2 separate regions of the Homo sapiens genome follow, and region 2 is linked to region 1. Evidence: fine-mapped expression QTL. A gene starts in region 1. The other region holds a variant in brackets. All regions are shown on one strand. Distances are between the middles of the regions.

Region 1 (5,374 bases):
GAATCCATCCTCCGTGAGTTGGCTGAGGGCAGAATGGGAAAAATGTGGGCCCCATGCACAGTGTGGGACCTAGGCAAGTTTGTCTGGAGAATCACAGGAGGAGCCTGGGCCTGCCAAGTTGGATCATGCCACTAGGGTGTCCCGGCGGCTGGCCCTCATCTCTCCTCTTGCAGAGTCAGAAAGGAAATGAGAAAGAACTTGGCCCCAGGGCTGTGTGAGAGGAGGCTCAGGCAGAGGAAGGCTGAGAAGGCCTAGGTCTCTAGGAGTTCATTCCTGCCTGGAGGACAATCAGCTAGTGCCCAGAGATAAGGCTCTGGTTCACCTTCATGCCTGAACCTTAGAGGCAGAGAATAATAGTAGGCAAGCATTAGCCTAGTGTTCTAACCAATGCAGACCCCACTTTCTCCTCATTTGCTCCCAGTGGCTTTGAATCCATTGCTCTGGGCTGTGATGTGGTCTTTCTTTTCAGACCATGAAGAGGACCTTATTTCTACCAAGTGTGTCTTGTTTCCAGTTAAAAACGGTGCACCCACACAGAGTAAGGAGTCAAGGGGCCCCAGACAACCCATCACTGCCTCACCTTCTTCCTGGGCAGCGGCCTGTCACTCAGCAGGCTGTGGCACCCCACTCCAAACTCCTACAGGTTAACCATTCATTCAGCAAAATCTTCATCAAGCAACTGTTATGTATCAGGCAACTTTAGATGCTAGAGATTCTCTGGTGAACAAAAAGAGACATGGTCCCTACTCCCATGGAGCTTACAGTCTAGTGAGGGAAGGGTGGAGGAGGGAATTATCACTCATGCCAGTACACAGACAATTGCAAACTGTGATAAACTACCCAAAGCAAAGGAACCACAGAAGATTCTGGCACTATATGGAAGGTGGGGCCTTCTAGGTGGCAGATGTAAAGACTGGGGCCCAGAGGGAAAGCAGCAGGGGCTGTGGAGAGGAACAGAGGGACCTGCAGGAAGCTGTCATAGGATGCCTTCCTTGGAGGCCAAGGACTGGGGCCTTTTTCCTAATTGCAACAACGGGACATTGGATGTGCATTTTACAAATCGCTCCCTGGCTGCTGTGTGCCTGGAGAATGGATTTCAGCAGGGCAGAAAGGATGCCGAAAAACCAGTCACTGAGGTCCTGGTGAGAGATGATGGTCATATAGAAGCCAGGCTCAAGGGAAGCATCCCTGCACCCCTCTTTCTGTCTCTGATGAAGTACCTATGTGATTTTTAAAAATCGGGGGCTGCTGGGGGGCTACTGACAGAGGAGACATCTTCATCCATCTCTCTGTGAGATGCCTTCCTGAGCCTTGCGCCCAGAGAATCCCACTTGTTCCTCCACTTCAGCACATATGAAAAATCTCAGCTCTGTTTCCCAACCTGCACGAGCACATTTATCCAAGTCAAAAATCATCTGCGATCCTTCTGCCCACTCTCCCAGCCCCTGCCCAGGCGGCTGGCCCCTCCTGGGGTTTCTCACAACCCTCCCTGCCTTTATTCCTGAAGTGCTTGAACATTGCCTGCAGTTACACTCCATTTAGACATTATTTTGATGATAAAATTATGTCTTCCCCCCTACTGCTCATTGTCTTCTGCAGAATATAGGAGAATAAGGTGGTGGTGTCTCCTGAGGGCTTTTCCCCCCTTTTAAATAATTCTATACCTACCCCCCTCCCCACACTCATTTGAATCATCAAATTGATTATTATCCCTGTGGCTGGTGCATCTCAAAAGATGAAAAACCCAGAAGCAGGGCTGGGGCATGACTTACAGCTCATTTTGGTACAGTGGCATCCCATAATATTCGGGTTCACTGAGGGAGCAGCGGACGGGGATGCAGGTGCGTTTGTAGCTGGGGATTCAGGTGTGTATTTCAAAGTGTGTACTTGTGCCTTGGAGTGGATGTGGCGGGTAAGTTGATCATTTTCACCACGATTGTATTTTCCTAAGCAGACAGGAATTTATTTGCTCATGTCTGTGTCCTGGGTACATTTCAGAGAGCTGCCAATGACTAGAGCATCACTTCATACATTGAGAGAACGTTTTATAGATGCGCACCCTGCATCTAGCCATATGAGAGTGGTGCAGAACTGACTGGCCCAGGTGATGAGAACTGGGAAGGGAATCTGTTTCTCTCCTGCCTTCTTGCTGTGCCTCACCTGCTGGCCTGACCCTTTGCACTTTTGCGCACACAGCGCAGGGTTTGAGGCTGCCTCTTCTCTTTGGTGCGTGGGTGGAGAAATGTGACTCATTTTTAATTTGGAAAACAGATCCATTCCAGAAAGGCTGAGAGGTGAGTTTGCTAGACCTGCCAGTTAAAAGATGGGATAGGGGTGGCCCGGGGGGTATGTAAGCAATAAATCTCCCCCCACCCCAGACCCACCTGGCGGTTGGACATTCCCCCCCACCCCCCTTTAACTGCGAGAAGGCAGGCCTTAGGGCTCTAACACCCAGTACTCCTACTGCTCAGGAGGTGGGGACCTCGCGCGCTGAGCGTCTCATTCCATGAAGTCTCTCTGTCTCACCCCCTCCCCCCACCCCAGCTTGATTCTGTCACTTTAAGTCCAGCCCCTGAGAGATAGCCAATAGGAGCCAAACTATACATCAGTCTCCCAGCCTTAAAGCTACAGTAGGGTTAGTGGGCTCCAAGTCTCTTGTGCCCCAGCCTCCTCCACGGCTTCGCATCCCCTCTGCCCGCTCTCTCCGGAGCGTGCGGATGAGTGGAGAGCTGGGCTGTGCGCGCACGGCTCTCTGCCTCCCTCTCCCCCGCCGCGGCCGCCTCCTCCCACTCTGCGTTCTCGCGCTCACTGTGCCCTGCCCGGGCTCGCACCTTGCCCGTGCCCTTCACTCGCTCTTCCGCGTGATTTCCCCGCCGTCTTTCTCTACCAACTGGGAATGCTAAAACGGGACTGATGGACGTGTCCGAACTCTGCATCCCGGACCCCCTCGGCTACCACAACCAGTAGGTGCCCTGCTTCTCGGTCTGTCTGTCCTTCTGCCCGTCTGGCAGTCTCTGTCCTGGGGATCGCAGTTCCTTTTCTGCACATTCTTGTGTAAAAGTGGAAGGGACTTCGGGGGGGCACTTGGGGGACGAAGGAGGGGAAAAGCCGCACACTTCTGGGTTTCTTTCTAGGGCATAAACCCTCCTCTAACTTTTTCCCGCACCCCCTTTTACAAATCCACACTTTCAGGCAAGAGTGGCGCTTTCTCATGCACTTTCTCCCTTTCTCTCTCCTCTCTGATCTTGCTCCGGGGTGAGAAAATATTTGAGTTTTTGTGGAATGGAGCAAGAAGGGAGGCAGAAGCCCAGAACAGGTGCAGGGATGTGGTTGCAAGGATGTCCTGTCCCGTCAGAGAAAGCCTTTCCCGCGGGCGCTTTGTTTTATTATTTCCATCCTGGGGACCAAAAATGATCCCGGCAAGAGAGAGAAAATCGAACGTGCCGCGGCGGTTTGGAAACTGCAGGCGGCCAGTGCCGCTCTCGCCTCGCGGTCTCCGTGGGGCGCCCCGAGGGTGCGCACGTGGCGCGGCGGATCCAGGGCGCCCGGGGGATGCGGGCCCAGCGCTGCGTCGTAGGCAAAGTTCGTTCTCGGCTTTGGGGGAGGCTGTGACCAGCGGAACAGAAGGGCACCATTTCCCTGCTCCGAGGCGGCTTTGCGCTCGCGGTGCCAGAACCTGGGGTTATCCGAGCGGCGTGGGCGCGGGCGGCAGCCGGCGCCGCGAGAAGCGACTCTCAGAAACCGCGGGTCTCCAGCCCCGGGGCAGCGCGCCAAGAGCGCAGAGTGGGAAAGTGAACTGATCGCCTAAGCAGCGGGTGGTCAACCCGCGTGTCATGTCCGGGCTCTCGGGGATCCCACTCTATCCACCTACGGTTTCCCTCCCGACACCCTCCACGGTCGCCGCTCCACCTGCTCGGGTACCTGCCCGGGTCTCCCCTTGGGCGCTGCGCACCCCACGGCGCCCCCGGCGGGTGTCCCGGAGGCAGGTTGTGTGCGCGTGCAAAGTGGTCCCTCGGAAGGCTTAATAATAATAATACATAAAACTCTAGGTTCTTACGGACAGCTTTCCTGCTTAACTTTGTGCTCGTCTTCCTCTTTTTTTTCTGACGCAAACTAAATTCTCCAAGTCAGCGTTTCTCCAGTTCCACCGTGCTTTCATTTGTGTACCACTCGCTCTCCCCCTCCCCCCAAGAACCACGACTACATCTCTAAAATAAATACTCTGGATCATGTGGGGTCCCAGGAAGTACCTAACCCCTCTCCTGGCTGCATGGAGCACCTCCACCACGGTGCACCCCGCTTGAGAGAGAGGGCAGCTGTCCACAGCATGGCTTGTGTTGTTGACCAGACTGTTCCTGCTTCTAGTTTGGGGATTTTCCCCACTCCACCCTGGGGCAGAGGGCCTTTTAGATGCCACCAGAATGTCGGCAGAAGGCGCTGGTCTGGGAGAGGAATCCTTAATAATAATGGATTCCGATTTCCATCAGCTTGAAAAGTGGCTTTCATTCCTTTTAAAGGTTAGATTCTAGCTGGGGTGGGGATGGGGTGGGAGCACCTGAGGTTAGTGAGGCTGTGGACAGTATTTGGTGCTTGTGGAGCATTTCCTTACATAAAATGATCAAGTATGACAAATATTGGATATTTAAATTATTAAGGCTCCCTCTCTCCAGAGGTGACTTCTTTAGTTGAGCACGAAATACTTATGTATTTGTCCCTGGCTCAAGTCATAGTCAATAAATATGAAAATTCGTATGAAGGAAGTACATTCTTTGATTATGCTTACCAGGAAAGCAAGGAGTGAGATGGAGGCTTTAACAGCTGGGTAATTCATCGAGTTGACGGCAGCCCTGACTGGAGTTTGAGGAGAAATATGGGCAAAAAGGCAATGTCAGGGAAGCAGCAGAAGGAAGTCAGGGAGCTGAGGTCCTGGGGGTCTGGGAAAGGTTTGAGATAGAAATCATTTATAAACTAAGCCTGACAGAGGTTTAGATCCCCAACCCTTTCCGGTTTTTTTTTGCAAAGAATTAGCTTGTCCCTCCATGGGGCACAGGAAAAGCCAAAAATATACCTGCTGTCTCCACCGAGGAATTGAGCACCCCTGTCAGATGTCATTTCTCAAAGCCCAGGACCCACTGGGCAGCAGCCCAGGCATTGATGAGCTGGCCTCTTATACATATATGTGCCGCCTAGGGAGGGTCTGCATGTGCTGTGGCGCAGAGGGGCATCATTTCAAGGACGAGCTTGTGGAGGTCTGGGGCTGGTGTCTGGGGAGACATCTTTCTGACCTCTACCCCATGGCTTTGTGACACAGCTTTAGAGCCATGGGTAGTAAAGTAACAGAGCAGGGGACTGGATTCTTTGGTTTGGTAGAAGG
Region 2 (5,374 bases), 65 kb before region 1:
TGAGGAAACTGAAGCACAGACATACTAAGGAATTTTTCTAGAGTTTCCCAATAACAAGCGGAAGAGGCAAGATTCCAACCCAGGGAGTTCCGATCCAGAGCCTGTGCTTAACAGCCCCATCTGACAGGCTCAGAGGTGTGTGTCCGGATGTGCATCTGCTCCGAGTGGACTAGCAGGCCTGGCCCTTGAAGCTGGAGAGGTTTTATGATGAGAAAGTGAGGCCATGATGAGTCTCCTGCAAGCAAAAGCCTGGGGTCTCCTAAGATGATGACCTGCCATTCGAGAGAGCCCCTGTGAGCAGAGAGAAATGCCGCTGGTTATCAGCTGGTCCCAGCAGACCCCTGCTGCCCCCAGGCCAGCTTCAAGGGGGCAGACACCAAGGCTTGGTTCAGTTGGCAGAGTTGAGAACCAGACTGTGAGATGATACAGAGGTCGACCTTGAGATAAAAAGCCAAAACAAAGGTGCCACAGGGGCTTCCTAGGGAGAGGGGTGGCTGGGTTCAACCCAAACACTGACCCCTTCCTACAGACAGGGTGCTGTGCTAGGGGGCTGTGGAAGCCCTAGGAGGGGCTGCAGGATGTCTGCCAGAGATCAGCGAGGGCTCGGTAAGAGTTGGAGGAGAAAGAAAATCATGGAGGGAAGTCCTCAGTTTGCATCAGAAGAGAAAGGTTTTTCCCTGGGAAGGAGCCTGGTGGTGAATGTGCGTGTAAGTGGCTATAGCCCCAGTCATCAGAATGGGAGTCTCTCTAGAGCCCTGTCTCTGCAGGGTTATCTGCTTTTCCAGCAACTAAACTTGCAGGGAACCCTGTGTGTGGCCAGGCCTGAGTAGACAGGAGTGCCTGGTGGCTGACCACTGGCATCACTGGCCTGGTACTCAGAAGGGCAGTGGTTCTCAGATAAAACTGCGAGTGAAAATACAGCAGTTTGACTATATCTGCCTGAAGTCTCACTCCCAGTTCTGGGCCTTCCTAGGGACACTCTTATGATACAGACATTTCTAGAGAGTATCTTACTTAGTCCAAAGGAGTGGCTCAAATGACAGTATCTTAAGTATCACTCTTTCATTCAATTAGTCAGTCAATCAATCCATACTCAGGAGGGTCTTGCTACAGATCAGGTATTATGGGGATGTGATGATGAATGAGACAAACACATAGTCTTTACCTTCTTGGAGCTCATATTGCAATGGCAGGCTACTGGTGGAAAGATTGGAGGCCCTACACGTTTAATAGGTTTTTGACTTCAACAGCTTAGATACCACCCCATCCTCATAGTTTCTGATAACCTGGAGAGTAAAGGATTAGATCTAACATGAAGAGGAGGTTCAACTTCATTTCTTTTAAAAATTGGGGATCAGGAAGTTTTAGGGATTATGAAGTACCTGTCCCTTATCCATACCAGCAAGGGGTTCATCCTATGACCCCTCTTGAAGGGGAAACTCACCTGAAATTCTGCCTCATTTAGCATGCACAAGAAATCCAGAAAATCAAGACAGGTGACCCTGTGTAGTCAAAGCAAGTGGGTCTCCAGATGGCAGATGGGAAGCCCCCTGGGGTAATGCATGCTCACCTGGTTAATTGTTGAACAGCCCATACTTGTGCCGTTTCACCATGATTCTTCCAACTTCCAGAAACAGCCCCTTGGCTCAGCTTTCAGAGCTGGACTGGCCTATCCCAGAGAGGCGGCCCCAACTTTGTAGAAACTGGGACAGGCAGTGCTTCTTAGAGACCCTCCGGTACCCCAAAGAGCGGGGCTTGTTCTCCAAAAAGGAAATCTTTTCAGACGACTTGACGTCCTAAATCTTTCTGGAGAAAGCAGAGACATTAACACCCCCAGGGCCTTTCAACTTCAGGCCGTTCTTCTGTTGGGAACGCCATCTCTTGGCCTCTTCAAAGACCTGGCCTCACCAGGCAACTGCACTTCCTCTCTCACCCTCCAGGAGCCTTCTGCATGGCCCCCAAGAAGCCTGCCTGGCCCCTGAGCTGGGAAAGCTGAATTCCCTCCCTGCCTCCTAATTTGGCAGGAGGAATGGAAACTTTCGTGGAAAGCACTTGAGCTGACGAATGCTCCCAAGTCAGGACTTTGACTCGGGCCCTGACAGGGCCACGGGCTCAGGATCCGGAGGGGGGCGGCTCTCCTTCTCCAGGTCAGGACCTCCTGCCCTGGCTCCTCCCCTTGCTTTCTGCCGACCATCAGTCACCAGCTCCCCTGTGACCCCAAGTGACGGCCGCACACCACTAGAGAAGTCATTGTCTTACACATCCCCCCTTTTCACTTGCCCTCCCCCAGTTCCTCCTCCCCTTCATGGTGTATTTTTCTTCCACACTTTCCTGCGTCCATCAGTGGCTGTGGAGTCTGCATGGGGCTGGGTGGAGTTGGAAGTCTAGAGCTTTTTGCTGTTTTGTTTAAGACCTGGTTATGGTTGTGAGACTTTTTTTTTTTTTTTTTTTTTTTTGTCAGCTGCCTGTTATATCAATCACGGAGTCGGGATCTATTTATAGGTTGGGAGTACTGTGTCCTTAGTCACAAAGAGACACAGACAGGGGACTGTCAGCTGGTACCGGAGGAGCGGAGCAACGAGTTATCAGCAACTGAAAGCACCTGAGGGGCCGCACATTCCACCCCAGCCCAGTCCTCGTCCTCCACGCCAGCCCCAAG[C/T]ATGTGAGTAACCCAACTTCTCCCTTTCTCCTCCCCAGACTCTGCGGGTCCTTTTCTGTCCCCTTTCTCTCTCTCTCTCTCTCTCTCTCTCTCTCTCTCTCTCTCTCAATGGATAAAAATATCTCCCCATGCCTGTTCTTTCATCCTGGTTTTCCGCACTCTAAAGCATCCCTGTGTGGCCGAGAGGAAAACGTTGCCTTTCTTAGACTGTCACAGGAAGGTCAGAGGGTCTCTGGATGGCTAGGTGGGACGGTGACACAAACTCATTTGGAAGCAGTGAGTTCCCTTTGATTTTTGTTTGTTTTCACTGAGAAAAAAGTAAGTACATCAGAAGGGCAAGGGAAAGTTTACATGCAGCTCAGCAGGGTAGCGATGTCGCCCAGCGTGAAAACTTTTATTTGCTGGCAGCTCCGGTGTAGGGCAAGCTGGGGAAGGTTACCCAAGAAGACCCAGTGCCCACAGGACAGGTAATGATGGGAGCTCCTGGAAGTTTTGGTTTCAACCTGGGAGCTTCCAGGTTCAGGGAGACTCCCCACAGTCCCGATGACCAGTTTTCTATAGCACCTTAAAGTAAATGATTTTCCCTCTCCCCTCCGCGGAGCAAGTTTGCTTTGAGAAGTCACGATGAGAGCTGAGGATTTGTCCTGCCTTACAGGCTGTCATTGGCTCCCTCATTTGGTGTATTTTCTTAATCCTGAAAGGGAACTTGGCTGGGGACTGGGAGGAAGAGTCCCAGGCCAAAGCCAGGTGTGGAGGGAGGGCTGTTGACTGCTTTGCTCTGCATCCTTCGCAAAGGAAGAAACTTAATATCGTGAGGCTTGTCAAAGCTGTGCTTGTTTCAGACAATTCGAATAGTGTGCCGGCTCTGAGTGCACCTCGGGCGGCTCTAGATGGGGCCTTCCCGGCCACAGTCCTGTGTCCACGGGGCTTACCTGCCACGAGCTTCCCGTGCAACGTTTGGGACTTTAGTTTCTGGATATTGAATAGTATTCACCCGAAATCCTGTACTTGGGAAGATTTGCTTTATAGAATTTACAAAGGAAAAGTAGCCCTACATTTTGAAAAAAAAAAAAAAAAAAGTAATGATGCCTAATTTATACTTAAGTACAACTTTTTAAATGTACCTTTTTTTTTTTTTAACCATGAGTTTCTATTTATCCAATGGATACCATATGCTATATGACTGAGGACTCCTTGATTTGTTTGGGAGAACAATATCCTACAAAGAAACAATCTTTCCAACAATTTAAAAGCATTAAACAAAGCAGATATGCCTGTATTATTTTTGATTGATTACAAACAAAAATAGTTTTACCAGCATGAAACCAGTTAGTTTCATCTAACTCGATGAAAGTTAAATAAATATGGATATACACACGTATGTTTAGAGAAGCAATTTGATATCATTTTTATTTTGACTGTTCTGAAACTTTAACTTTCCTTTTTCTGGTTCCATGTTTTCAGCTGTATTTTGTTTAGGGTTATTAATATCTTTAATCCATTCATTCATTATTTTGGACGGGAGAGTGGGGATCAGGAAGCAATGAGAAATTAGAAGGCAAACGTCCCATGTTCAGCCAGTAAGACCGCATTCAGTAGTGGAGAAATTCAGAACAAGGAGTATGGCGTACAAGGGGGTAAATGTCACTATTTAAGATCTAGTATAGACGGTGAAGTCTAAGAACTCCAGAGGGGGACAAACGCCAACTAGGAGTTAAAGTGTCTTATACATATAGCATTATTATTCTTCCTATTATGAGGGCCTCTATTTTGGTAAATATGTCCTGCTAAGGTTTTTTCACCATAATGCTGAAGTGGGATTTGGTGGATTATTGTTAATTAAAGCTCAAGTGAATGAAGTGATTGAGACATTGCATTCAGAAATCAGAGAAGATTGCTATTGGCAAAGCTGAACTTCTAGGACTTTCAGATCTCAATGGCTTTTGAGAAAAAATGTGGCTTTTAAAAATGCCTTTTAGTACAAGAACAAATTCTACCTCCCCTCCCCAACCTGCACACTGGAGCCTGCCTGGCCCACTGTGCAGGCCCAGTGTGTCAGGATTAAATGCAGTGGGAGAGAGTCCCGCATTCCTGAGCAAGTCCTGTGTTCTCAGAGCCTTAATGGTCAGACAGAAGAATATTTTGTTGGGACATTTAGCTAAAAACTGCCTCTTCCCTGGGCTACGTGTAGATCCTTTCAGGTGAGATAGGGGCTTGTCTGACCGTGTGATAGAGGGCCTGGCTTTCATCCTCAAGTTCAGGGTGTGGTTTGGCCCATCGGGCTTAGTTATAGAGATGCAGTTCAGGGAAACTTCAGTGTATTTGCATGAGACAGCCTCTGATTACTTAGTTTCTGCTTCAATAACTATTAATTTTATGTGGTTTGAGCTCCCATCAAATTCATTTTTTTTTTCAAACTGATTTCTTAAATGCAATTGGTCACGGGGCTGTCTGTGACTTCATGTCTGCAAAATCTAACCATTCCATCCTTGTCATTGTTTATTTCTCTGAATGTAAATGAGCAGTTTCCTGTGTGCATGCACTGTTGTTTTATGGGTTCCCCCCACCGCCCTCGAACACATAGGAATCCAGTCCTGACCTCCTCCCAAATTGGGGACAGTGGGGGCAATGAGCAGGTGCTTTGGAATGCAGCAGGCTCAGGTGCAGGAAGAGGGAATCACAAATACCTGGAAAGTGCTCCCCTAATTCAAACGA

What was found. PIP is the estimated chance that this variant, and not a neighbour inherited with it, causes the effect.
Region 2: its variant is fine-mapped to the expression of ESRRB in skeletal muscle (GTEx, PIP 0.95).

The regions. Positions count from the first base shown.
Region 1 is chr14:76,373,489-76,378,862 of GRCh38, forward strand. ESRRB (estrogen related receptor beta) reads left to right here and starts at 2,649. Exons shown (of 7, transcript NM_001379180.1): 1 at 2,649-2,963. The coding sequence starts at 2,914.
Region 2 is chr14:76,308,255-76,313,628 of GRCh38, forward strand. LOC105370575 (a long non-coding RNA gene) reads right to left here and starts at 2,165. Exons shown (of 4, transcript XR_001750833.3): 1 at 1,571-2,165. It also overlaps a transcript of ESRRB not described here. RefSeq lists an enhancer at 1,568-2,181. The variant C/T (reference allele first, on the strand shown) is at 2,660.